Regions from separate parts of the Homo sapiens genome. Here all the other regions are linked to region 1. Evidence: fine-mapped expression QTL. A gene starts in region 1. Each other region holds a variant in brackets. All regions are shown on one strand. Distances are from middle to middle. Region 1 holds the start of CAPN12 (calpain 12). Region 2 overlaps ACTN4 (actinin alpha 4). Region 3 holds the start of LGALS7B (galectin 7B). Region 4 overlaps ACTN4 (actinin alpha 4). Region 5 holds the start of LOC124904712 (a long non-coding RNA gene).

Region 1 (5,103 bases):
CCAAGTCACCATGGGGGAAACGGAGGCATGGGCAGAGGAACTGAGCTGTACCTGGAAGTGGAAGACGCCTGCGTAGCCATGCTGGAAATCCTGTCCAGGAGGGACCACCCGGCGCAGGAGCCGGGGATACAGAGTAAGGGAGGCGGCAGCTGCAAGGAACCAGCAGTTACCTGGGAGGAGAGGCCAGGATTAGGTGAGGATGGAAGGAGGGAGGCCTGGTGCGGTGGCTCATGCCTCTAATCCCAGCACTTTGGGAGGCCAAGGCAGAAAGATCACGTGAGCCTAGGAGTTCAAGACCAGCCTGGCCAACATGGCAAGACTCCACTACAAGAAAATTTAAAAATTAGCTGGGCATGGTGGCATGCACCTGTAGTCCCAGCTACTTGGGAGGCTGAGGCAGGAAGATTGCTTGAGTCCAGGAGGTTAAGGCTGCAGTGAGCTATGATGGTGCCACTGTATTCCAGAATGGGTGACAGAGTGAGACCCCATCTCAAAAAAAAAAAAAAAAAAAAAAGGAAGGAAGGAAGGAGGGAGGAGGGAGAGAGAGGCCTAGGGAGAGAAGAGACTGAGGAGGGATCCAGGGGCCGGGAGTGGGTGGACAAAGGGATGGAGCTGTCAGGATCTCAGCTGAAACTAGCTGGATCTGAGGACTCCAGGTGGGTTCAGGGTCTCACCCAGGCTCCCCTGACACACGTCTGTGCGGCTCATGTCTTCACAGATGAACTTCGGCTCAGCACAGAACTCCTGTGGGTGGTGGGGGATTCCAGGCCTCAGCCTGAGAAAGCGAGGAAAGGTCTCATCCAGAGGAGTGAGGGCCTCCAAGCCCATGAAAGGCCTGGAAGCCTGTGGGCAGGAGCATGGCTTCCCTGGGTCTCCAGAAGTTGTGCTGAGCCAGTCCCATGGTAGCCCCCTCCTCCCTCAGACCCGGGAGTCCAGGCCCAGCCCCTCCTCCCTCAGACCCAGGAGTCCATGTCCCGAGCCCCTCCTCCCTCAGACCCAGGAGTCCAGGCCCAGCCCCTCCTCCCTCAGACCCAGGAGTCCAGGTCCCGAGCCCCTCCTCCCTCAGACCCAGGAGTCCAGGCCCAGCCCCTCCTCCCTCAGACCCAGGAGTCCAGGTCCCGAGCCCCTCCTCCCTCAGACCCAAGAATCCAGGTCCCCAGCCCCTCCTCCCTCAGACCCAGGAGTCCAGGTCCAGCCCCTCCTCCCTCAGACCCCGGAGTCCAGGTCCCCAGCCCCCTCTTCCCTCAGACCCAGGTGTCCAGGCCTTGGCCTCTCCTCCCTCAGATCCAGAAGTCCAGGTCCAAGCCCCCTCCTCCCTCAGACCCAGGAGTCCAGGTCCCCAGCCCCTCCTCCCTCAGACCCAAGAGTCCAGGCCCAGCCCTTCCTCCCTCAGACCCAGGAGTCCAGGCCCAGCCCCTCCTCCCTCAGACCTAAGAGTCCAGGTCTCGAGCCCCTCCTCCCTCAGACCAGGGAGTCCAGGCCCCCAGCCTTCCTTCCTCAGACCCAGGAGTCCATGCCTCCAGCCCCTCCTCCCTCAGACCCCAGAGCCCAGACCCCAGCCACACTTTACATGGGGCCTCATCCATTTCACGCCTTTGGCCTTCTCCGAGTCCGGCCCCAGCTGGTCATAGCCAAGGGCATCAGGGCCAGCAGGGAAGTAAGGGTCGCGGAACAGGATCCCCGAATCCAGGCAGGCTGCCCGAATTGCCTCATAGCTCTGGCCCCGAAAAAGCTGCAGGCGCCCGGCTCCGACCCCAGCCTCCTCATCCACGAGCTGGATGGTGACCCTCCCACTGCTGGATGCCATCTGGACACTGGCCTCACAAGCCGGCACCAGGCCCTTTAACCTCCTGAGTCACGGGGGCGGGGCCTCTCTTCCATTGGAGCCCCAGTGGGGTCTTTAGGCAATGAGGAGCCTTCCCTCGTTAATATTAATTGATGGTTTGGGGTGCTGGGGAGCAGGGACGCCTCTTCAGTAGCTTTCTTCCCAGGGCGTGGGGCCTTCAGTTGTGGCCAAGGTAGCAGCTTAATGGGCTTGGCCAGCAGCAGGAGAGAAGGCGGGCAGAGCTGAGGGAGGACCGGCTGCCGCTGTCAGAGCACCAAGAAGGAGGTCAGTGTGGGGGTGAGCTTCTGCCTACTTATGCCTGTGGGGCTGGGGAAGGAGGCGGGTTTACCTCGGTGTCTCTATCTCTCAGACTGCCTCTCTCCCCCTCCCTCTGACAGTTTCTCTCTCCCCGCCTTCATGTTTCTTCTCCATCAGTTTCTGGAGTGCAGTGGCACGATCTCAGCTCACTGCAACCTCCGCCTTCTAGGTTCAAGTGATTCTCCTGCCTCAGCCTCCCAAGTAGCTGGGATTACAGGCTCGTGTCACCATGCCCAGCTAATTTTTGTATTTTTTGTTAGAGAAGGGATTTTACCATGTTGACCAGGCTGGTCTTGAACTCCTGGCCTCAAGCAATCCGCCCACCTTGGCCTCCCAAAGTGCTGGGATTACAGACGTGAGCCACTGTGCCTGGTCAGGTTTTGTTAATTAAAAAAAATTTTTTTTAAAGTAGAGACAGAGGGGTGGCGGGGGGCGGTCCCATATGTTCCCCAGGCTGGTCTTGAACTGCTGGCCTCAAGTGATCCTCCTGCTTCAGCAGCCTCCCAGAGAGCTGGGATTACAGATGTGAGCTACTGTGCCTGGCCCTTTCTTGTTTTTTGTTTCTGGCAATATTTGTGTCTCTGTATTTCCCCAACTCCACCCCTCTCCCCACCCCACCCTCTTTTTTTTTTTTTTTTTTTTTTTGTAGAGATGGGGCGGGGATCTCACTTTGTTGCCCAGACTGGTCTCGAACTCCTGGGCTCAAGTGATCCTCCCCGCTTGGCCTCCCAAAGTGTTGGGATTACAGGCGTGAATCACTATGCCTGTCCCCTCTCTCTTTGTGTCTCTTTCAGCGTGTGTCTGTTCCTCTCTGTACCTGTCAGACCCAGGAGTCCAGGCCCCCAGCCCCTCCTCCTTCAGACCCTGTCAGTGTACCTTGTGTCTGCCTCCCTGTCTCTTCCTCTCCATCTTTCTGTCTGTCCCTGTAACCCATATGTGGCTCCTCCATCATCCACCGAGGGACCCTGAGCTCCCCTCCGCTCACGCCCCCTAAGCCCTCAGGATGCGCCTCCTCCCCTCCCGGACAAGGTAGACTCAGCCTGCTTGCCCAGGGAGGCTGACCCTGGAGGGATGGCTCTGTACCTCTCCTGTGCTGGGAGCCATCTGGTGACCATGATGCCCTGCCCTGGCCCACGCCACTCAGAGTCTGGATGGAGCAGTATTTCCCCCAAAGGACTCTGGAGCCATTGGAGGAAATGGGAGAAACAGGTACGGAGATGCCAGAGCCTCAGCAGTGCTGGTCCCAGCAGACCTTCCACCCTCGTTGAGGGTGTCTGCTGCCCTCCCAGAGCCTTGTCACCTCCACGCCACTCAGATGTCCCTCAAGCCTTTTGGCCTTCTTCCCTCCAAGTGGACCCACAAATATTGTCCAAGCCACCCACGTACACGGCTACCAAAAGTGGGTTACAAAACAGGCTTTCTGGCTGGGCGTGGTGGCTCATGCCTGTAATCCCAGCACTTTGGGAGGCCGAGGCAGGCAGATCACCTGAGGTCAGGAGTTCGAGACCAGCCAGGCCAATGTAGTGAAACTCCGTCTCTACTAAAATACAAAAATTAGCCGGACATAGTTGCGGGCACCTGTAATCCCAGCTACTCAGAAGGCTGAGGCAGGAGAACCGCTTGAATCTGGGAGGCGGAGGTTGCAGTGAGCCGAGATTGTGCCACTGCACTCCAGCCTGGGCAACAGGGCAAGACTGCATCTCAAAAAACCCCCCAAAACAGGGCCGGGCATGGTGGCTCATGCCCGTAATCCCAGCACTTTGGGAGGCTGAGGTGGGCAGAACACTTGAGGCCAGGAGTTCAAGACCAGCCTGGCCAACATGGTGAAACACCATCTCTATTAAAAATACAAAAATTAGGCTGGACGCGGTAGTTTACTACGCCTGTAATCCCAGCACTTTGGGAGGCCGAGACGGGCGGGTCAGGAGTTCCAGACCAGCCTGGCCAACATGGTGAAACCCCATCTCTACTAAAAAATACAAAAAAATTAGCTGGGTGTGGTGGCACGCACCTGTAATCCCAGCTACTCAGGAGGCTGAGGTAGGAGAATCGCTTGAACCCGAGAGGTGGAGGTTTCAGTGAGCCAAGACTGCACCACTGCACTCCAGCCTCGGCAAGAGAGCAAAACTCCATCTCAAAAAAAAAAAAAAAAAGGCCGGGCACGGTGGCTCAAGCCTGTAATCCCAGCAGCACTTTGGGAGGCCAAAGCAGGCAGATCACGAGGTCAGGAGATCAAGACCATCCTGGCTAACACGGTGAAACCCCATCTCTACTACAAAAAATACAAAAAATTAGCCAGGCATGGTGGCGGCCACCTGTAGTCCCAGCTACTCGGGAGGCTGAGGCAGGAGAATGACGTGGACCCAGGAGGCGAAGCTTGCAGTGAGCCGCCACTGCACTCCAGCCTGGTTGACAGAGCAAGACTCTGTCTCAAAAAAAAAAAAAAAAAAAAAAATTAGCTGGGCATGGTGGTACACACCTGTAATCCCAGCTACTCAGGAGGGTGAGGCAGGAGAATCGCTTGAACCTGGGAGGCGGAGGTTGCAGTGAGCCAAGATCACGCCACTGCACTCCAGCCTGGGTGAGAGAGTGAGACTCCATCTCAAAAAAAAAAAAAAAAAAGTTTTCTTCGTGTAGGATTGCCAAGCCCACCCCAGCCCCACGGGAGTCATATGGGAGTGCTTCCAGCCTGCCGGGATTAGGAGCCACAGCACCTGGGGTCCAATCCCAGCTCTGCCACCTACACCTGTGTGTCTTTGGGCACATCACTTAACTTCTCTGTGCTTCAGTTTCCTCATCTCTGCAATGCGGATGATGATAGGGCGTACCTCGGAGGGTTGCTGTGGGAAGCGAATGAGTTCGTACGTGGGATGAGTTCAGAGAAGTGCCTGACACAGAGTCGCTGCTCACTGCACGAGGCATTGACCATGCCTTGGCGTTCAAGAGTGTCTGCTGCCCTC
Region 2 (5,000 bases), 90 kb before region 1:
GCCATCTGTTACTTTGTTCCATTACTCTAATTGCTTGCCTCTTAGGATCTGGCTAGGACTAACAGTTTTCAAAATTGAGTAACACACTTGACAAAAAAAAAGGAACCAAACTCAAACTCAACTGTTATCTAGAAAAAAGACTGTGTAAATATGTGTGAGAGGCAAGTATACTCTGTTTGCCCTCTTGTAAGAGGGATAGGGGAGGCCACTCAGCTGCTAGCACTCTGTTCTCTCCCCTCATCCTCTCCAGAATGTATTTTAGAACTTGACTCTTCTAATGACTGAAGAAAAGGTGGGGTATGGGAAGATGGCCTGGGACTGCAGGGTCACTTACACTCACCTGGCTAAGAGTTGAGATCTGGCTGGTGCCCTGGAGTGGCACCTGCCACTCACCTAATCCTAAACAATCCAGGGTGTGGGCCCAGGATTGCCCTCTGCCTTTTGAAACACCCTCCCTGGTTCCGGCTTCTAAGACCAACAGGGAGGCTACTTTGGTGGCAGGGAGCTGACTCACCCTCCAGTTGGAACTGGTGCTAAAAGCCTCCATTTAACGGCAGCCGACTGCTTGGCCCCAAGTGGGCTGCCTTGTGGGGGGGAAAGTTCAGTGGAAAGTGTTGGAGGAAGCAGGGTGGTGTGTGAATATCCAAGTAGTGCTGGTGCTATTAAGCTCTGACACAGTCAGGGAGGTCAGTTAAAATGTGGTCTTATGGCCGGGCGCAGTGGCTCGCGCCTGTAATCCCAGCACTTTGGGAGGCTGAGGTGGGCAGATCACCTGAGGTCAGGAGTTCGAGACCAGCCTGGCCAACATGGTGAAACCCCGTCTCTACCAATAATACAAAAATTAACTGGGCATGGTGGCAGGTGCCTGTAATCCCAGCTACTTGGGAGGCTGAGGCAGGAGAATCGCTTGAACCTGAGAGGTGGAGGTTGCAGTGAGCCAAGATCGCGCTACTGCACTCCAGCCTGAGTGACAGAACAAGACTCCATCTCAAAAAAAAAAAAAAAAATCAGATGACAGAGGGGAGCGGGGACAAGTTTTAAGTCTAAGCCTCCTGGGTGGGGAGTTCTGCTGTTTCAACATATGCTCCAGTCATGGCAGACTTTGGCCAGACAGCGCCCTTTTTCAGAGTGAACTGAGTGTAGCACAAGTTATCTGCCAGTGCTAGTTAGCAAACAGAATGGAGCCAAAAAAGAATTGATTTGGGAAGGCCCAAGGAATTTGAAACCGTTGAGATGAACACTTTCCGTTTTTGCTACACTGATTTATGTTGTGCTGGGAATTGTACAAGCCTTTGACCAGACCTTAGGGTTGTTCTTTAAAAAAAAAAAAAAAAGATTCCCTTGCTGCTGCTTTTACTTTTTTGAAGGGCAGAAGGGAAGGGCAAATATAATTAGTGAACAGCTGTTTGCTCTAGTATCACTTGCTCGTTCAGGTTTTCTGAATAGCTGAAATATCAACATGTTTATCTCTTCCCTTGCCTTAGTATATCCTAGAGCAGTGTTTTCCCCGGCTTTATCTTTATTCCTTCATTTAATGAACTCCGTGTTTTCATCACTCACATTTTGTTCCCTTCCCTCAGTTTCCTTCCTTTGCCTTCATTTATGTATTTAGTTTACAGAATAACAAAAGCACTCGTGTTACTTTTAAACAAGGTAAAACTTAAACAGTTTTTTCCTCCGTTTCTTTTTTTATGGAAATAAGAGGCAAGTGATAGCAAGTGGGTAATTCAATGGCAGTGGTAACTGAAGCACTGACCTGTTACAAGAGAGACGGAAGCTTCTACTTGAGCAGATACAAATACTGTCATCCGTGGAGATTTGAAAGAAGTCTTTCTATCACTGGGTAGTTTGAGAGCTCATTAGTCTTCTTTAGAATGGGTTTAAACTTGGAAACATCAAAGCAAGTTACAAGGAAACTTAGTTTTACAGTGTTGGCAGCCTAGGCGCCAGAATTTGTTATAAAGTGTCTGAAAGTGGCCCAGGTATCACTTAACTTTTCTTCAAGAAGGTCTATGAGTTACATTTTACTCGGTATCCCAGGCATCAAGGAGTGTAACTTTCAATGAATCAAAGAGAAACAGAATCATTTTAAATTCCAGCCTCTGTTTAAAGAAGGATCTTATGAAGGGGAGAAATTAACCACCTGACCCAGGGAAGGATCCCGCCTCCTCCAGAAAGTGAAATCGCCGGGTGTGGTGGCTCACGCCTGTAATCCCAGCACTTTGGGAGGTCGAGGTAGGTGGATCACGTGAGGTCAGGACTTCAAGACCAGCCTGGCGAACATGGTGAAACCCCATCTCTACTAAAATGCAAAAAATTAGCCGGGCACGGTGGTGCACCCCTGTAATCCCAGCTACTGGGGAGGCTGAGGCAGGATAATCACTCAAACCTGGAAGGTGGAGGTTGCAGTCAGCTGAGATCACGCCACTGCACTCCAGCCTGGACGACAGAGTAAGGCTCCGTCTCAAAAAAAAAAAAAAAAGAAAAAGAAAAGGAGTTAAATCTTTGCATATATTTAACTGGCAAGAGCATCCTTACATCAGTGCATGGGAAGTTTTATCCAAGTAGCAGTTTCCCTGGGATTATAAAAATCCCCGAGGCATTTGTCTTGGTGTTGTGCCTTTTTTTGGTTGTGTTTTTTCACGTCCCTCCCCTCCCCTTTCTCCATAAACAAGAGAGGCATTAACTTGGAATGTCCGTGGAAAGTCTTAGAAGCTGATTGGTGTAATTTGCCTGCCTTCCCTTTAGTTTGAACAGCGTTTACTCTGGAAGAGGTCAGTGGCCTTTTTCTTGGTTGTGATTTATGCAAGTGTTATCTGAAGGCGAGTGGAGTGAGTTTACGTGGGATTTGCTGTTTGCCACCTGTTGTTGTGCTGGCTCCTTCCTTCCTGGGATGAGTTCCATTCTCTCCCCCTCCCCCAGGAGTGAGGCTCCCCAGCCAGAGCAGTCCCCCTGTGCTTATCCCCTTCCTTCGTAAACTGCAGCCATTTGTGATTTTCCATAACCACTTTTATAGACACATAATAATTTCCTTTGAATCAGTTTGCATTTTAAATTAAGTTTTGAAAGGAAAACTGACAAGAGTATGGCAACTGGAAAACCCAGCTCCCCTGGCC[A/G]TAAATATAATAGAAGGAAACTGCAAAAATAAACACATTGAAAACAAAACAGTGTTGTTTCCAGGTGGTTACCACTCGGGCTGAAGGCCCCCCAGGCTTGAGGCCTGCTCCCTTTGTTAGAAAGGGATTGGCAAGTGTTGGTGAGGTGTTAAAGACCCACCAGCACCAAGCAGAGACTTTCTCTTTGAAGTCATCAGGTTTACAAGAGAATCAAAGGAAATAACTTTCTCAATGTGATTCAGGGTGTAATGTAAGGTGTAGATAACCCTTAAAATTTTCCATGTGTGTATGTCACACTTGGGAAAAAAACTTGATCTCATCTGGTCGAGGTGGGCAGGGCAGCACCTTGTCCAGGAGCACACAGCCCCTCTTGGCTCTGTGTGTCATCCGGCCATACTAGACTCGAACATATGGCTCATGACTGGATGATGCTTGATTCATCTTCAGTTTCAAGTGTTAGTGCTTTTGAGGTTTTGTAAGAAACCAGGACACATTGAAAATACAGTCATTTCTCAGTATCTGTGGGGGATTGGTTCCAGGAACCCCCTTATATACCAAAATCCACAGATGCTCAAGTTCCTTATGTAAGATAAAACGATGTGTAATTTGCATTTTAACTATGCACATCCTCCTGAATACTTTAAATCATCTCTAGATTACTTATAACCTAATGCTAAATGCTACGTAAATGGTTGTTACACTGTGCTGTTTAGGAAATAATGACAAAAATATGTACATGTTCAGTGCAGATGCAACCATTCATTTTTTTTCTTCCAGTATTTTCGATCCATTGTTGGTTGAATTCACAGATAGAGAACCCATGGATACAGAGGGCTAGCTGTAAGAAATGTGGGTTTATCATTTGTTCCTCACACAACTTTTTTCTTTCTTCGTTTTTCTTGCCTTTGTTCCTTTTTTTTGAGACAGGGTGTCACTCTTTTTACCAAGGCTGGAGTGCAGTGGAACAATCTTGGCTCACTGAAGCTTTGACCTCGGGCTCAAGCCATCCCCCCACCTCAGCTTCCCAAGTAGCTGGGACTAGAGGTGCACACCACCACGCCTGACTGATTTTTGTGTTTTTGTAGAGATGGGGTTTTGCTGTGTTGCCCAGTCTGGTCTCAGCCTCCCAAAGTCTTGGGATTACAGGTGTGAGTCACCACGCCCAGCCAACTTTTTCTCTTAAGGCTCCAGTTTTCTTCTTAGAGTTGGGCCCCTCCCACGAAGAAAGCACACTGCCACCCCTTCATCGGATTTGAACCCTACATTTTGAAAGGAAAGCAGTGCCCTCCTGCTGAGTTAACAAGGCTTATTTAAATGTTTTTCTTCCAAATATCAGAGCAGAACAGATTCTTTGTCTTCCAGTGGAACTATCCACATGGGGCAGAAGTAGTTGGAAGCGGCAGTTACTACCCTGCAGAACACAATGAAGTCATCTTGGGAAATATCGTGGATGGTGTTGCAATGATTGAATGGGATGCTAGAACACCAGCAATACAATAGCATTTGTGTCTTCAGCTTCAGGCAGGAATAAAGAAGACTTTGTGGTTTGTTTTATGTTTTTTAAAGTTTCCCCCCCAAAGGTGTGGGGCTGAGTGATGTCTGTCACTAGCTTTCTAGTGGGTTTTTCTTTTCATCTTTTCCCCTCCCTGATGTCTTTTGAGAGTGGGTGGAAGCCACAGTCTAGGTGGATCAGAGGAAGCACAGAAGGCAGGCAGTATACCCCACTTTGTGTTTTCCATGTCTGAAGGGAACACATTTGGTTTTTGTTCTGTTTTGATTTTTTAGAGACAGGGTTTCACTGTCACCCAGGCTGGAGTGCAGTGGCCTAATCATAACTCACTGCAGCCTTGAACTCTTGGGCTCAAGGGATCTTTCAGCCTCAGC
Region 3 (5,200 bases), 44 kb after region 1:
GCCTGTAATCCCAGCATTTTGGGAGGCTGAGGTGGGTGGATCACTTGAGGGCAGGAGTTCAAGACCAGCCTGGCCAACATGGTGAAACCCTGTCTCTACTAAAAATACAAAAATTAGCCATGAGTGGTGGCACATGCTTGTAATCCCAGCTACTCAGGAGGCTGAGGCAGGAGAATCACTTGAACCTGGGAAGCAGAGGTTGCAGTGAGTCGAGATCGTGCCACTGCACTCCAGCCTGGGTGACAGAGCAAAACTCTGTCTCAAAAACAAACAAACAAACAACAACAACAACAACAAAAACCCATCAAGGATGCAATCAAGGATGCAGATCTGTTACCAGAAAGGAGTCAGGACTTCAGGCTAATAATAGAGTGAATGGAAAGCTTTGGCCAGTCAGCAAAGGCACGTTGGGACTTGCAGCATGTTGGCTGCATGTGAAGTTACATCCAGCCACAGTGAAGCGATCACTAAAAAGTTGAGTTCCTGGGAAACACGGTACACAGCATGAGGCGTCAGTAATGTGAGGAGTGTGTTCTTTAGAATGGTCAATAATGTTAGAATGATGGAGTTCACCATTCAAGGGAACATTCTCGGGAACTAACTGAGCTGCGCTGGTGGTGTGATCACCGGACACCCTGCTGTCCTCTCTGTCCGTGCCCATGACATGTCCTTGGCACAGACACCCCTGTGGAGCCCAGGGCCTGGCCGCTTCCTTGGCTGAGAAGCTGTCCCTGTCTAGGCCTCAGTTTTGTCTTCTGCAGAATGGGGGTGCTTGCAGCTCCCACTGAAATGCAGCTGCAAGCCTCCCTCTCTGAGCTCACGTCCCTAGGAACTGGTCCCCCACCTTGGTGCCTTGGAGTGTGTGGGGAGGGGGCAAGAGGCTGGGGGCCTGGGACAAAGAGGGTGGAGGATGGTTCTGGGTCTGGTGTCTCCACCCAAACTTTCCACTGCCAGCCTGCCTCTGCCCAGGCCTCTCAGCAGCCTGCTGGGTGGGGCAGGAGTGCAGGAGTTGGGTGGGGAGTGGAAAAGGTCCAGGAGGGCTGCTGCATTGCTAGGAGTGGTTTATTTTTATTTATTTATTTGTTTGTTTGTTTATTTATTTTTGAGATGGAGTCTTGCTCTGTTGCCCAGGCTGGAGTGCAGTGGCGCGATCTCGGCTCACTGCAAGCTCTGCCTCCCGGGTTCATGCCATTCTCCTGCCTCAGCCTCCCGAGTAGCTGGGACTACAGGTGCCCGCCACCATGCCCGGCTAATTTTGTTTTGTATTTTTAGTAGAGACGGGGTTTCACCGTGTTAGCCAGTATGGTCTCGATCTCCTGACCTCGTGATCCACCCGCGTCGGCCTCCCAAAGTGCTGGGATTACAGGCTTTATTTTTATTTTTTGAGACAGAGTCTAGCTCTGTCGCCCAGGCTGCAGTGCAGTGGTGTGATCTCGGCTCACTACAACGTCCGCCTCCCCAGCTCAAGCAATTCTCCTGCCTCAGCCTCCCAGGTAGCTGGGATTACAGGTGTCCACCACCACACCTGGCCAATTTTTTGTATTTTCTATAGAGAAGGGGTTTCACCATGTTGGCCAGGCTGGTCTTGAACTCCTGACCTCAAGTGATCCACCTACCTTGGCCTCCCAAAGTGCTGGGATTACAGGCGTGAGCTACCATGCCCAGCCAGGAGTGGTTTCTGTTCAGCTCCCACACCATCCCTGCCTTTCAGAAACAGATTTCAGTCCTGCCCGCCCCCCCCCCCCCCCCCGCCTCCCCCAGTCTACTTCCCCAACCCTGGATTCTCTTCTAGAGTCTTGGGCCCAAGCGGGCTATATTGGGGCTGGCGGGAGGGTCCCCACCTTGCTCTGCTTTTGATCTAGGTGGTGATGGAATGCTAGGCCACCCACCACCCTAAAACCCACCTCATCCTGACCTGCAAAATTGGTGGGAAGATGGTAACAGTCCTGGAAGGAGGAACAAGAGAGACTTGAAGGAGAGAAGTGGGACAGGAATACGCGGTAGACAGTTATAGACAGAGACAAACAGAGCCAGACAGCCAGCCCCAGAGACAGAACCCACAGGAGAGGCACGCCCAGAGGTGAGGAAAGGCAGAGGTTGGGGCAATGGGTCCTGCCCGGCTTGTGGAAAATCACTTCCCATCCCAGCCTCAGCCTCCTTCTCTGTACAATGGGGGTGACCCATGCTTCTCTCTGTTGGAATGGTGGGGTCCCAATCAGTGATTTCCTGCATATCCTGGGCAGCCCAAGGGCCTGGGAAATGACAAGCGTAGTCCTAGTGGATCCCCTCCTTTCACCCCTCCTGACTGAGGACTTCCCATGAACCCGGCACACTCCAGGACCCAGGGGTGCAGCACTGAGCCAACCAGGCCGCCCTCCGACCCTGTGAAGTCCCCCTGTCTGGCACTATCGTCGTTGTTGTGGCTGCTGTTCCACTGGAGACTTAGAAGCAGGGATTTCAGCGCAGACATTTCCAGTCTAGGCAGGAGGTTCTCAGCTGGAGAGAAGGGTCTAGAGTTCCCGCTGGGCTTGGCTTCTCAGGACCCAACATGTCTGTGGATAAAATGAGCATGAGAGACTCTCCTGTGTGCCAGGCAGTGGGAAGACAGGGGTGGAGGGGCGGTGGCTCTTATTATCAGCTCCTAGGAGAGGGGCAGTGCACCCGGGCTCTGGGTGATGGGGGGATCAGGGCCCCCAAGAAGAGGCGCCACTCCCACTTCGCCAGGCTTGCCCCAGGGCCAGGGTCCGTGCCAGGTGTGGGTGGTGGGTGGGAAGGGGTGGGGTGAGTCATCAGGGCCAGCCC[C/T]GCCCTGCTTTTATTTAAGGTCCCCAGCAGGCCCCACCACCACGGCTGCCCAACCCGGTCCCAGCCATGTCCGTGAGTGCTCCAGGGGCCCGGGGCGGGGCCAAGCAGGGAGGGGGCTGGGGGCTCCTCTTTCAAAGGAGCAAGTGGGCAGTGAGTGTGCCACGGACTGGCCTGGGCTGTGGCCTCCGGGTAACCCCCATCCCGACTGTCCCCTCTACCTCTTTGTGGCTTCCTCTGGGGCCCTCTTTGAGGATCTTTCTGTTTGTCTTTGTTGCTCTCCCCATCTGTTTCCCTGTCTGTTTCTGGTCTCTTTCCTGCCTCTCCGCCACCCTTTCCTCTTCCACTGATTTCTGCCAGTCTCAGCCCTGGTCGGCTCCTCTGAGGGGTGACCCACCTTCTGCCTCCCTCCTTCGGTCTCACCGGCTCACAGTGGCCCCTGCACCCCACTCTTGCAGAACGTCCCCCACAAGTCCTCACTGCCCGAGGGCATCCGCCCTGGCACGGTGCTGAGAATTCGCGGCTTGGTTCCTCCCAATGCCAGCAGGTGAGGCCCCAGGCCCTAGGGGTAAAGGGTACAGGTCTCAGGATCAGCTGACTCCCAATTTTTGCAGTCCAGAAGTAGGGGCCCGAGGCCACCTGTATCCACCAGGCTAGGAGTCCGAGGCCATTTCTGACCTCAAATCTGATGTATTCGTATTTGCCCCCGTGCCTTTGTGGCTGGGGTCCCTAAGTTTCCCTAAGCATTTGAGGTCCCTGGGTAATCTCAGGGTTCCTAGATATAGTCCTATGACTTCCATGTCTGAGTCCCAGGGAACTCTGGAAATACTCCAAGTCCTGGAGACACCCTGGACCCTGGGAGTCCTTGCCAAGCCATCCTTTGACTTCCTGGCTAAGGAACTTCGGGCCTTCTGGATTCTGAGGTACCCTGGAAATACTGGGGTTCCTGGTATTATTCTTTGTCCTGTAGAAGCTGAGGGTTCCCTGAGCATCAGGAGCACCCTGGCTATCACCCAGACCTCCTGGGCAGCTCCCAGGCTCTTTGGAAATGAGGGCACCCTGCCCTAAGCGTAGTGAGTTTGGTCTGGGTAGGTTTCTGCCAAGGGCCTCATGATATTTTGGCTGCCTTGGGAATCTAAGCTCCCTGGTCATTAGTCGCCCACCTCTCCTTCTGCGGTGTGTGCCTGTCTTCAGGTCCCTGTTAATTTGGGGGTACTCTGGGAATGGGGAGTGCCAGCCCATAAGACCTTCACTTTGGTCTGGGCGGTTTATGTTTTGTTTGTTCTTTCGTTTTTTTGTAAGGTGGGGTCTCGCTATGTTGCCCAGGCTGGTCTTTAACTTCCGGGCCCAAGCGATCCTCCCTTCTCCACCTCCCAGAGTGCTGGGATTACAGGGTGAGCCACTGCACCCAGCCAACATTTCATTTACTTATTCATTCAAAGTAAATTGTAGACATCGGTATTCCTCACCCTCAACATTTCTTGGTCTGGGTGGTTTCTGAGCCCTGACGGCCACCATCCCCCTCTTCCAGGTTCCATGTAAACCTGCTGTGCGGGGAGGAGCAGGGCTCCGATGCCGCCCTGCATTTCAACCCCCGGCTGGACACGTCGGAGGTGGTCTTCAACAGCAAGGAGCAAGGCTCCTGGGGCCGCGAGGAGCGCGGGCCGGGCGTTCCTTTCCAGCGCGGGCAGCCCTTCGAGGTGCTCATCATCGCGTCAGACGACGGCTTCAAGGTGCGTCTCTGCGACAGGGGCGTGGACGCCAAGACTTAGGTCCCTGGAGCAGAGGGTTGGGCAAAGCCAGGCTATTGGTGGAAGGCAGGGAGGTTCGGGGCGGGGTGAGGGGGGTAGGGAAGTCGTGGCCAAGGCGGAGAAGGGTGTCCTTCGACCCTCTCTCTCGCCTAAACAACTCCCACTTGGGTCCGAGGGACAGAGAGACAGCAGGGTCAGGACGAGGCGAGCACCAGCCAAGTGTCCAAGGGGTGGGCGTCCTAGCGGGAAGGCGTGGCCCAGACTCGCCATCCCAGACCCTACTCCCAGTTCATTCCTTCCTGAGGTCCGGGGTTTGAGGCATGGGGAGGGATGGGTTGGAAACAGCGCCCAGGAACTCGTCCTAGCAAGGATTGGCGGGTGGGAGTGGCGGCAGATCCTCCACCACCCACAGCTTACGCGAATTCACCTCCCTCCTCTGCGCTTTAATAGCGGGTAATGGTCGCTGAAATGAGAATATCCATTACCAGCACTAAAAAAGCCGCTTTTTACTGTGCCACACAGTCAACTCGTTTGATCCTCACGCAAGAGTTAGAATGAACAATAGCCCCATTTTCCCAGTGAGGAAACTGAGGCCCAGAGGGGATGAGTGATTTCCCCAGGGCCACCCAGCACGGGCCTCCGGAATCCTC
Region 4 (5,000 bases), 73 kb before region 1:
TTTGTTATTTGGGGACACTTTGGAATATGTCACTCAGAATGCTGGCTCACTAGCTCCACAAGCAAAAGACTCCTTGGGTAGCTGGAAGCAAGCGTTGGGGGAAGGAGGGAGAGGCAATTGCAGTCCAGCCAAGAATCTCAAGGCTCAGTCTTCAATGTATGGAAACTTCAGTCCTTTTCTGATCTTTAGTGGAAATAGCTGTTCACTCTTAGCGCCAATTGGAAAGTGTTGGCAGCTGAAGGGGGTCGTTCCTCAGGGGTCCCCAGAGCCAGTGTATCTGGTATTTCTAACATTTTCCTAGCCACCCCTTTCTCCTCCATATGCCCCTCCCAGCCCCACCATTCAGATAGGGTGGCTGGAAAGAACATCTCCTAGGTCCTCTAGGAAACTTGGTGTTTCCACTCAAGGGAGTTGGGGATCACGTAACACCCTCCACTTCCACCTGGGATTTCAGGCCATCTGTGGGAGTGCAAGAGCATGGTGGGGTGGAGGTCACAGGAAGGTGGAAGCAAAGCCAGGGCAGCTCCACATGCAGCCCCCTTTCAGGAACAGCAAGGATAGGCCGGCCTGTATCTTGTTGCTCAGAGCAGGTGATCCTGTCATTTGGACCCTTGTGAGGAGAATGGATGTGAGTGTGCACCTGGTTCTCTTCTCCTGGGGCTGAGGGACTGTGGTCTTGGATTATCACATGGTAGGTGAGGTGACAAAATGGAGGGAAGTAGCCTGGGTGGGGACTGGGGTGGCCACTGCAGAGCTCTAGCTGATGGTGGCCAGGTGGGAATGGGGACCTGGGACTTCACGAAGCTGGAAATGGAGAGTTTTATGGGGCATTTCATTCAACTTAAAAACCTGGCCGGGTACAGTGGCTCACGCCTGTAATCCCAGCACTTTGGGAGGCTGAGGAGGGTGGATCACGAGGTCAGGAGATTGAGACCATCCTGGCCAACATGGTGAAACCCCATCTCTACTAAAAATACAAAAATTAGCTGAGCGTGGTGGCTTGTGCTTGTAATCCCAGCTACTCGGGAGGCTGAGGCAGGAGAATCCCTTGAACCAGGGCGTCGGAGGTTGCAGTGAGCTGAGATGTCGCCATTGCACTCCAGCCTGGTGACAGAGCAATACTCCAACTTAAAAAAAAAAAAAAAAACCTGCAGGCCATACAAAATAGGGCCTATTGGGTGTGAAGAGCTACCCATTTGTGACCCCTAACCTTGCATGGTCTTGACCCTGTCTCTGCCTCTCCTCTAGTCTCCCCTTTCCTCTTGTCTGAATTGCTGCTGCTTAATCCTCTCACTAGGAGCGAGAAAATTGTACTTTGCCCCTTAGTGACAGCTCTGATAAAAGGTGGTTGAAGTGGATGGTAGTAAAAAGGGTTTGCTTTAGCTGTGGTTTTCCAGCCTCCGGACTCCTCCCCCTTTCCCATCACCATAGATAATTAAGAGTTGACTCCTCAAAATTCCTCCCACCATATTGCATATTTTTAGGCTTCAGGTTTTTGTGAACCAAAATAGTGGAAAGTTTTTTTGTTTGTTTGTTTTGGGTAGCCCAAAGCAACACTTTTCTACAGAGGCAGCCATTCTGCACGCACAATAACCTGGTGAACAATGCCAGCTTTCTATTAATAAATGAACTGCCAGTTCAGAATTTGTACCCATGTGGCAGATGGACAGAAATAGTTTCTTTAGGATTGATCTCTTAAATTTGACTTTGGGAAGATACTGGCAGTCCAGGTTTTGTGACAGAGATCCATCCTGAGATCTTTGTAAATGGAAAAGCCTGAATGCAGCGTTTCTTATTGATAGGAGAGTTGATGGATTTCAGGAAAATGGGATATAGTAGATGTGCAATGAATTTGTTGACTTGGAAACAAATTTGGACACTTATCCCTGAAAACTTCAGGCCATTTTTTCCTAAACTCTAATTGAGTCCCTGTGATTGGAGTACTAGCCCCACAGTCCTTATCAAACTTCGCATTTGGAGCAGGCAGTCTGTCTGGGAAAAGCCAGGAAGCTCGCCATGAAGGCATCGCCCTCTGCTTTTAACTTTTTTAGGCTCTGTTACCTCTGCACTGGCTTGAGTATTTCCTGGCTCAATTGTTTCTCAGGCTGGCCTTGAGTCCTTAGATGTTATTTGTGTGCCTAGAAATAGCTGGAAGAAAAATGGTTGTAATGCTTTGCATTGCTCACTGCTCTCCATGGATGGAAATTCTGTGAGGGAAAGAGGGCTTTCCACCCAGAAAAAGAGCTGGGCAGCGTAGACTTCATTGTCCTGCTGGCCTGTCATGTTATTCTGCTATACTACAGCGATTAGGATGAGAGAGTTTCTCGCTCTCCCTGGGTGTGCCACCTAAGGTACATTAGGGTAGGGACGAACATGGCGGGAGTTCTCATAGTGGGCTTTCCTGCCAGACGTATGGCCCACACAGCAGTATTTCTTACATGTGGTTCTTTTTTTTTTTTTTTTTTTTGAGACGGAGTCTTTCTCTGTCGCCTAGGCTGGAGTACAGTGGCGTGATATCGGCTTACTGCAACCTCCACCTCCCAGGTTCAAGCAATTCTCCTGCCTCAGCCTCC[T/C]GAGTAGCTGGGACCACAGATGCATGCCACCACACCTGGCTAATTTTTGTATTTTTAGTAGAGACGTGGTTTCTCCATGTTGGCCAGGCTGGTCTTGAACTCCTGACCTCAAGTGACCCACTCGCCTTGGCTTCCCAAAGTGTTGGGATTACAGGTGTGAGCTACCACACCCTGCCAAGGTTCTATTATTTGATCTATGTTCTTTGTTTGTTTGTTTGTTTGTTTTGAGATGGAGTTTCGCTCTTGTTGCCCAGGCTGGAGTGTAATGGCACGATCTCGGCTCACCGCAACCTCTGTCTCCCGGGTTCAAGCAATTCTCCTGCCTCAGCCTCCTGAGTAGCTGGGATAACAGGCATGTGCCACCACACCCGGCTAATTTTGTATTTTTAGTAGAGACGGGGTTTCTCCATGTTGGTCAGGCTGGTCTCAAACTCCTGAACTCAAGTGATCCACCTGCCTTGGCCTCCCAAAGTGTTGGGATTACAGGCGTGAGCCACCATGCCCGGCCCCTGTAACCATTTTTAAGTGATTGATCATCTCAGCATGATTGATGGAGATGATGGGGTTGGCCATCCATTCTTTTTTTTTTTTTTTTTTGGAGACAGTCTCACTCTGTCTCCAAGGCTGGAGTGCAGTGGCACAATCTTGGCTCACTACAACCTCTGCCTCCTGGGTTCAAGCGATTCTTCTGCCTCAGCTTCCCAATTAGCTGAGATTACATGCATGCACCACCATGCCTGGCCAGTTTTTGTGTTTTTAATAGAGACAGGGTTTTATCATGTTGGCCAGGCTGGTCTCAAGCCCCTGACCTCAGGTGATCCCCCCACCTCAGCCTCCCAAAGTGCTAGGATTACAGGCATGAGCCACCACACCCGGCCTATTCATCATTTATTGAGCATTTATTTATACCCACTATGTGCCGTAAACAAGGTGCTGAGTAATGAGATGTGAACAGAATAGTCCTTCTTCTTGTCCTCATGGAGCACACAGCCTAGTCGGGGACAATAGGCATTAAAAAATACCAACAATGAAAACCCAAGACATACATAGAGTGTTCCAAATTGTGGTTTTATTTTTTATATATATATATTCATATATATTTATATATATTTATATATATATTCATATATATTTATATATATGAATATATATTTATATATATTCATATATACTTATATATATTTATATATACTTATATATATTTATATATATTCATATATATTTATATATATTCATATATATTCATTTATATTTATATATATTCATATATATTTATATATATTTATATATTTATATATATTATATATATTTATATATTTATATATATTATATATATTTATATATTTATATATTTATATATACTTATATATATTTATATATTTATATATATTTTTATATATATATATTTATATATGTATAATTTTTTTTTTTTTTTTTTTTGTGATGGAGTCTCTATCACCCAGGCTGGAGTGCAGTAGCGTGATCTCAGCTCACTGCAACCTCTGCCTCCCAGGTTCAAGCAATTCTCTGCCTCAGCCTCCTGAGTAGCTGGGATTACAGGTGCCTGCCACCACGTCCGGCTAATTTTTGTATTTTTAGTAGAGATGGGATTTCACCATCTTGGCCAGGCTGGTCTTGAACTCCTGACCTTGTGATCTACCCGCCTCGGCCTCCCAAAGTGCTGGGATTACAGGCGTGAGCCACTGCGCCCGGTGTGATTATTTTTATGAAGGAAAAGACCAGAGTCCTTTAAGAGGGGACAGTGGGGGACTTGCAATAGATTGTGTGGGAGCTGTCAGGGGAGACTTTCCAAGATGATGACAGTGAAGTGAGGCCTGGAGGGAGAGTTAGAGCCAACCTCAGAGAAGGGAACACTGTTCTAGGCAGGAGGACCCAGGGTTGTGGGAAGAGAGAAATAAAATGAGACCAAGACAGTGGGGAGAGCAGTGTGAGTTGAAGTCAGAGGGGTGACAGCAGCCAGAATGTGCCGGTAGCGAGGATCTTGGATTTTATTCTAGCTGCAATGAGAGCTTTGATTCTACAAATATTTATTGCGTGCTAGTCACTGTTTTAGGTACTGGGTGTACAACAGTGAAAAAAGAACTTCCCAGCCGAGTGGAATGCCGTGGAGCATATCTGTTTCGATGCTGGGACAGATCCCTAACACAGCTCATTAAAGCAGATAGCACCATTCCGTCTCTTTCTTCAGCTTCACTTTACGTCAGTCCCAGCATTTTTATCCCTACCCTTACAGATGAGAGAACTAAAGTTCAGAGAGGTGACGTGACTTGCCCCAGGCCCCTCAGTCAGTAAAAGACAGAACTGAGAATCCAACCAGACTCTTCCCTTTTTAGGTTATTTCTCTAACATTAGGGCCGAGTATCGATTCTCTTTACCTCTGACTTCGTGTCCCTGGTATTAAGACTC
Region 5 (5,200 bases), 76 kb after region 1:
GCATCAGTTGTTCTCCATGAGCCCACCCTGCTCTCCCTGTTTCCACCTGTGTCCCCAGTCTATTCCCTACAGGCAGCCAGGGGAAGCCAGTGGACACCTTCTTGGGTCAGATCCTCTTTTTTTTTATTTTATTTTTTTTATTTCAGACAGAGTCTCGCTCTTGTCGCCCAGGCTGGAGTGCAGTGGCAGGATCTCGGCTCAATGCAACCTCCGCCTCCCGGTTCAAGTGATTCTCCTACCTCAGCCTCCCAAGTAGCTGGGATTACAGGCGCCCACCACCATGCCCGGCTAATTTTTGTATTTTTAGTAGAGACGGGGTTTTGCCATGTTGGCCAGGCTAGTCTCAAACTCCTGACCTTGTGATCCACCCACCTCGGCCTCCCAAAGTGCTGGGATTACAGGCGTGAGCCACCGTGCCCGGCCCAGACCCTCTTTTTCCCACCTGTGGCTCTTAGAACAAAATGGAACGTCCTTGTCATGACTACCCTGCATGAACACTGTTCCCAACCTGTTACTTTGGGCACACTGGCCTCCAACTCTGTGTGTGTGTGTGTGTGTGTGTGTGTGTGTGCACTGTTCCCAACCTGTTACTTTGGGCACACTGGTCTCCAACTCTGTGTGTGTGTGTGTGTGTGTGTGTGTGTGTGCGGGCACGTGCATTTGAGCCCAGGAGTTGGAGGCTGCGGTCAGCTATGATCGCACCACTGCACTCCAGCCTGGGCGACAGAGCAAGACCCTGGCTCAAAAATAAAAAATAAAAAGAAAAGAAAATGGCAGGACAGAGAGGTGAAAAGACAAGTGGAAATAGGATCCAGATCACTGCCTGAGGGCTGTGCAGTGGTACAGAATCTTCTCATTGAGAAGGTGACCTTGAGTAAAGACCCAGAGGAGAGGGAGGGAGCCAAGGACCTTTGGGCTGACAACCATCCCTCCCTCTTCAACAGCCACAGACTGACTCCTTCACTTCCTTCAGCTATAGCTCAAAGGTCACCTCCTAGAGAGGCCCTCCCTGGCCAACCTGGCTCAACGATGGCCCCATCCCCCGCATCCTGACCCCGCCTTACCTCCGGGCTGCACAGCTGCTATCCTATAATTAGGTCCTTATCTGCTTGAGGGTCTGACTCCCTTTCTAGAATGTGAGCTCTGAGAACACAGGAGTTTTTGTCTTTCTGTCCACTGCTGCATCCCCTGGGCCTAGCACAGGGCCTGGCGCACACGAGCTGCTCAATAAATGATCAATACAGACAACAGTCCCTGTCCTCATGGGGAGGCAAACAAATGAATAAAAAAGTATATTTTGGGGCTGGGCGTAGTGGCTCACACCTGCAATCCCAGCACTTTGGAAGGCAGAGGCAGGAGGATGGCTTGAGGCTAAGATTTTGAGAACAGCCTGGGCAACATTGCAAGACCTCTTCTCTACAAACAATGAAAAAATTAGCTGCACATGAGGCTGGGCATGGTCACCTGTAATCCCAGCACTTTCGGAGGCTGAGGTGGGCGGATCGTTTGAGCCCAGGAGTTGCAGGCTGCGGTCAGCTATGATCGCGCCACTGCACTCCAGCCTGGGCGACAGAGCAAGACCCTGGCTCAAAAATAAAAAATAAAAAGAAAAGAAAATGGCAGGACAGAGAGGTGAAAAGACAAGTGGAAATAGGATCCAGATCACAGCCTGAGGCCAAAGTCCCCCTTACTTTTTTTTTTTTTTTTTTTTTTTTTGAGATGTAGTCTCACTCTATCGCCCAGGCTGGCGTGTAGTGGCGCGATCTCGGCTCACTGCAAGCTCCGCCTCCTGGGTTCACGCCATTCTCCTGCCTCAGCCTCCCTAGTAGCTGGGACTACAGGCGCCTGCCACCATGCCCGGCTAATTTTTTACATTTTTAGTAGAGACGGGGTTTCACTGTGTTAGCCAGGATAGTCTCCATTTCCTGACCTCGTGATCCGCCTGCCTCAGCCTCCCAAAGTGCTGGGATTACAGGTGTGAGCCACGGCGCCCGGCAATCCCCCTTACTTTTAACCAGCATGCCAGCTACTCAGATGACAGACATTTAGCAGCTAAGAGCAAGGACTCTATAGCCAGGCAGCATGAGTTCCAAAATCCCAGCTCTGCCACTTACAAGCTGTGATTATTGGGTAAGTTTCTTGCTCTCTGGATCTGTTTCACCTTTAAATGGGGCTTATAGCAGAACCTGTCTTGTGGACTGTGATTAGAATTAATATGTTTAACGTGCTTAGAAAGGGGCGTCACACACCATGAGTGCTACATAATTGTGGCCACCTTTTTCTTTCTCTAATTAGTAGTTCTACTCTATCACTGGGTCACTGCATGACCTGCCGTTTCTTCCTTCTGGCCTTCGGGGTCTTGCTGCTGAAAATAAGATAAGACGGCCACATTCAGCTGGGAGCTGAAAGATGAAGGACCTGGGCCCGGCACAGCCACAAAAAAGCCCCATTTTTCTGTTCTCAGACATGATCTCTATGAGAGCAAGGGGTCAGGAATC[G/A]GGGCTGCTTCCCGTTTCCACATCTGCAGCACCCAGGAGGGGGCTCTGGCACTGGACTGTGTCACTGAATGTTTGTCAAATGAATGAACAAATGAACAAGAGGAGGAACAGAGGGAGATGCAGAAAGAAAGCAGGAGGCTGGGTGCGGTGGCTCATGCCTGTGATCCCAGCACTTTGGGAGGCTGAGGCAGGAGGATCGCTTTAGATCAGGGGTTCGAGACCAGCCTGGGCAACATAGCAAGCCCTGCCTCTACAAAAAGTGAAAAAACTTGCTGTGCATGGTGGTGCACACCTGTGGTCCCAGCTACTTGAGGGGCTGAAGTGGGAGGATGAGGGGAGGTGGTAGGGGCTGAGGTGGGAGGGGTTGAGCTCAGGAGGTGGAGGCTGCAGTGAGCTGAGATTGCTCCACTGCATTCCAGCCTGGGTGACAGAGGGAGACCCTGTCTCAAAAATGAAAGAAAGAGAGAGAGAAGGAAGTGAGAGGTGACAGCATGCTGGCAGCCCTTGCTCGCTGGCCTCAGAGCCCACTCTGGCCATGCTTGAGGAGCCCTTCAGCCTGCTGCTGCACTATGGGAGCCCCTCTCTGGGCTGGCCAAGATCGGAGCCGGCTCCCTCTGCTTGCAGGGAGGTGTGGAGGGAGAGGCGCGGGCGGGAACCCAGGCTGCACGCAGTGCTCTCCGGCCAGCGCAAGTTCCGGGTGGGTGTGAGCTCGGCGACCCCGCACTCGGAGTGGTGGGCCGGCGCCACCTGCCCTGAGCAGTGAGGGGCTTAGCACCTGGGCCAGCAGCTGCGGAGGGTACACCGGGTCCCCCAGCAGTGCCGGCCCGCTGGTGCTGCACTCGAATACTTGCCGGGCCTCAGCTGCCTCCCTGTGGGGCAGGGCTTGGGACCTGCAGCCTGCCATGCCCGAGCCTCCCCCCGCCGCCGTGGGCTCCTGCACAGCCCGAGCCTCCCCGAGGAGCGCCACCCCCTGCTCGGCGGCGCCTGGTCCCATCAACTGCCCAAGGGCTGAGGAGTGCTCCGCCTGCGGCCCTGGTGCAGGATCCACTGGGTGAAGCCAGCTGAGCTCCTGAGTCTAGTGGGGATTTGGAGAACATTTATGTCTAGCTGAGGGACTGTAAATGCACCAATCAGCACTCTGTATCTAGCTAATCTGGTGGGGACTTGGAGAACGTTTATGTCTAGCTAAGGGATTGTAAATACACCAATCAGCACTCTGTTTCTAGCTCAAGGTTTGTAAATGCACCAATCAGCACCCTGTGTCTAGCTCAAGGTTTGTAAATGCACCAATCAATGCTCTGTGTCTAGCTCATCTGGTGGGGACTTGGAGAAACTTTATGTCTAGCTAAGGGATTGTAAACAACCAATCAGCACTCTGTGTCTAGCTCAAGGTTTGTAAATGCACCAATCAGCACCCTGTGTCTAGCTCAAGGTTTGTAAATGCACCAATCAGCACTCTGTATCTAGCTAATCTGGTGGGGACTTGGAGACTCTTTATGTCTAGCTAAGGGATTGTAAACAACCAATCAGCACTCTGTGTCTAGCTCAAGGTTTGTAAATGCACCAATCAGCACCCTATGTCTAGCTCAAGGTTTGTAAATGCACCAATCAGCACTCTGTATCTAGCTAATCTGGTGGGGACTTGGAGAATCTTTATGTCTAGCTAAGGGATTGTAAATACACCAATCAGCACTGTGTGTCTAGCTCAAGGTTTGTAAATACACCAATCAGCACCCTGTGTCTAGCTCAAGGTTTGTAAATGCACCAATCAGTGCTCTGTGTCTAGCTAATCTAGTGGGGACTTGGAGAAGTTTTGTGTCTAGCTCAGGGATTGTAAACGCACCAGTCAGCACCCTGTCAAAATGGACCAATCAGCTCTCTGTAAAACAGACCAATCAGCTCTCTGTAAAACGGACCAACCAGCAGGATGTGGGTGGGGACAGATAAGGGAATAAAAGCAGGCTGTCCGAGCCAGCAGTGGCAACCCACTCACGTCCCCTTCCATGCTATGGAAGCTCTGTTCTTTTGCTCTTTGCAATAAATCTTGCTGCTGCTCACTCTTTGGGTCCACACTGCCTTTATGAGCCATAACACTCACCGCGAAGGTCTGCAACTTCTCTCCAGAGGCCAGCAAGACCACGAACCCACTGGGAGGAATGAACAACTCCGGACGGGAGGAACGAACCACTCTGGACGCACCGCCTTAAGAGCTATAACACTCACTGCGAAGGTCTGCAGCTTCATTCCTGAAGCCAGCGAGACCACGAACCCACCAGAAGGAAGAAACTCTGAACACACCCAAACATCAGAAGGAACAAACTCCGAACACATCAGAAGGAACAAACTGCGGACATGCCGCCTTTAAGAACTGTAACACTCACCACGAGATTCTGCGGCTTCATTCTTGAAGTCAGTGAGACCAAGAACCCACCAATTCCGGATACATTTTGGTGACCCAGATGGGACTATTACCTATCGCCAAGCGGTGAGACCACTGCCTATCGCTGAGCGGTGAGACTATCACCTATCGCCAAGCAGTGAGTACCACTGGACCCCTTTCACTTGCTATTCTGTCCTATTTTTCCTTAGAATTTGGGGGCTAAATACCAGGCACCTGTCTGCCAGTTAAAAGTGACTAGCATGGCCGCTGGACTAAAGACATGGGTGTCAGGCTTTCTGGGAAAGGGCTCTCTAACAACTCC

The links. PIP is the estimated chance that this variant, and not a neighbour inherited with it, causes the effect. A credible set is the group of variants that fine-mapping cannot tell apart.
Region 2: its variant is the best candidate, but not a certain one, in a credible set for the expression of CAPN12 in whole blood (TOPMed, PIP 0.53).
Region 3: its variant is the best candidate, but not a certain one, in a credible set for the expression of CAPN12 in sun-exposed skin (GTEx, PIP 0.70).
Region 4: its variant is the best candidate, but not a certain one, in a credible set for the expression of CAPN12 in prefrontal cortex (BrainSeq, PIP 0.57).
Region 5: its variant is the best candidate, but not a certain one, in a credible set for the expression of CAPN12 in whole blood (INTERVAL, PIP 0.60).

The regions. Positions count from the first base shown.
Region 1 is chr19:38,742,359-38,747,461 of GRCh38, forward strand. It overlaps CAPN12 (calpain 12), which reads right to left and starts at 2,116. Exons shown (of 21, transcript NM_144691.4): 1 at 1,571-2,116; 2 at 675-744; 3 at 52-170. The coding sequence starts at 1,807.
Region 2 is chr19:38,652,096-38,657,095 of GRCh38, forward strand. All of the region lies in intron 1 of ACTN4 (actinin alpha 4), which reads left to right. Among named protein-coding and RNA genes, the nearest start is that of ACTN4, 6.9 kb to the left of the region's middle. RefSeq lists enhancers at 30-639, 640-1,248, 1,787-2,655, 2,656-3,524 and a silencer at 3,644-3,693. The variant A/G (reference allele first, on the strand shown) is at 3,117.
Region 3 is chr19:38,786,359-38,791,558 of GRCh38, forward strand. It overlaps LGALS7B (galectin 7B), which reads left to right and starts at 2,842. Exons shown (of 4, transcript NM_001042507.4): 1 at 2,842-2,874; 2 at 3,258-3,346; 3 at 4,331-4,532. The coding sequence starts at 2,869. The variant C/T (reference allele first, on the strand shown) is at 2,803.
Region 4 is chr19:38,669,792-38,674,791 of GRCh38, forward strand. All of the region lies in intron 1 of ACTN4 (actinin alpha 4), which reads left to right. Among named protein-coding and RNA genes, the nearest start is that of ACTN4, 25 kb to the left of the region's middle. RefSeq lists enhancers at 4,605-4,654, 4,825-4,894, 4,925-5,000. The variant T/C (reference allele first, on the strand shown) is at 2,574.
Region 5 is chr19:38,818,363-38,823,562 of GRCh38, forward strand. The region is part of intron 3 of ECH1 (enoyl-CoA hydratase 1); the gene reads right to left. LOC124904712 (a long non-coding RNA gene) reads left to right here and starts at 4,478. Exons shown (of 2, transcript XR_007067252.1): 1 at 4,478-5,035. The variant G/A (reference allele first, on the strand shown) is at 2,499.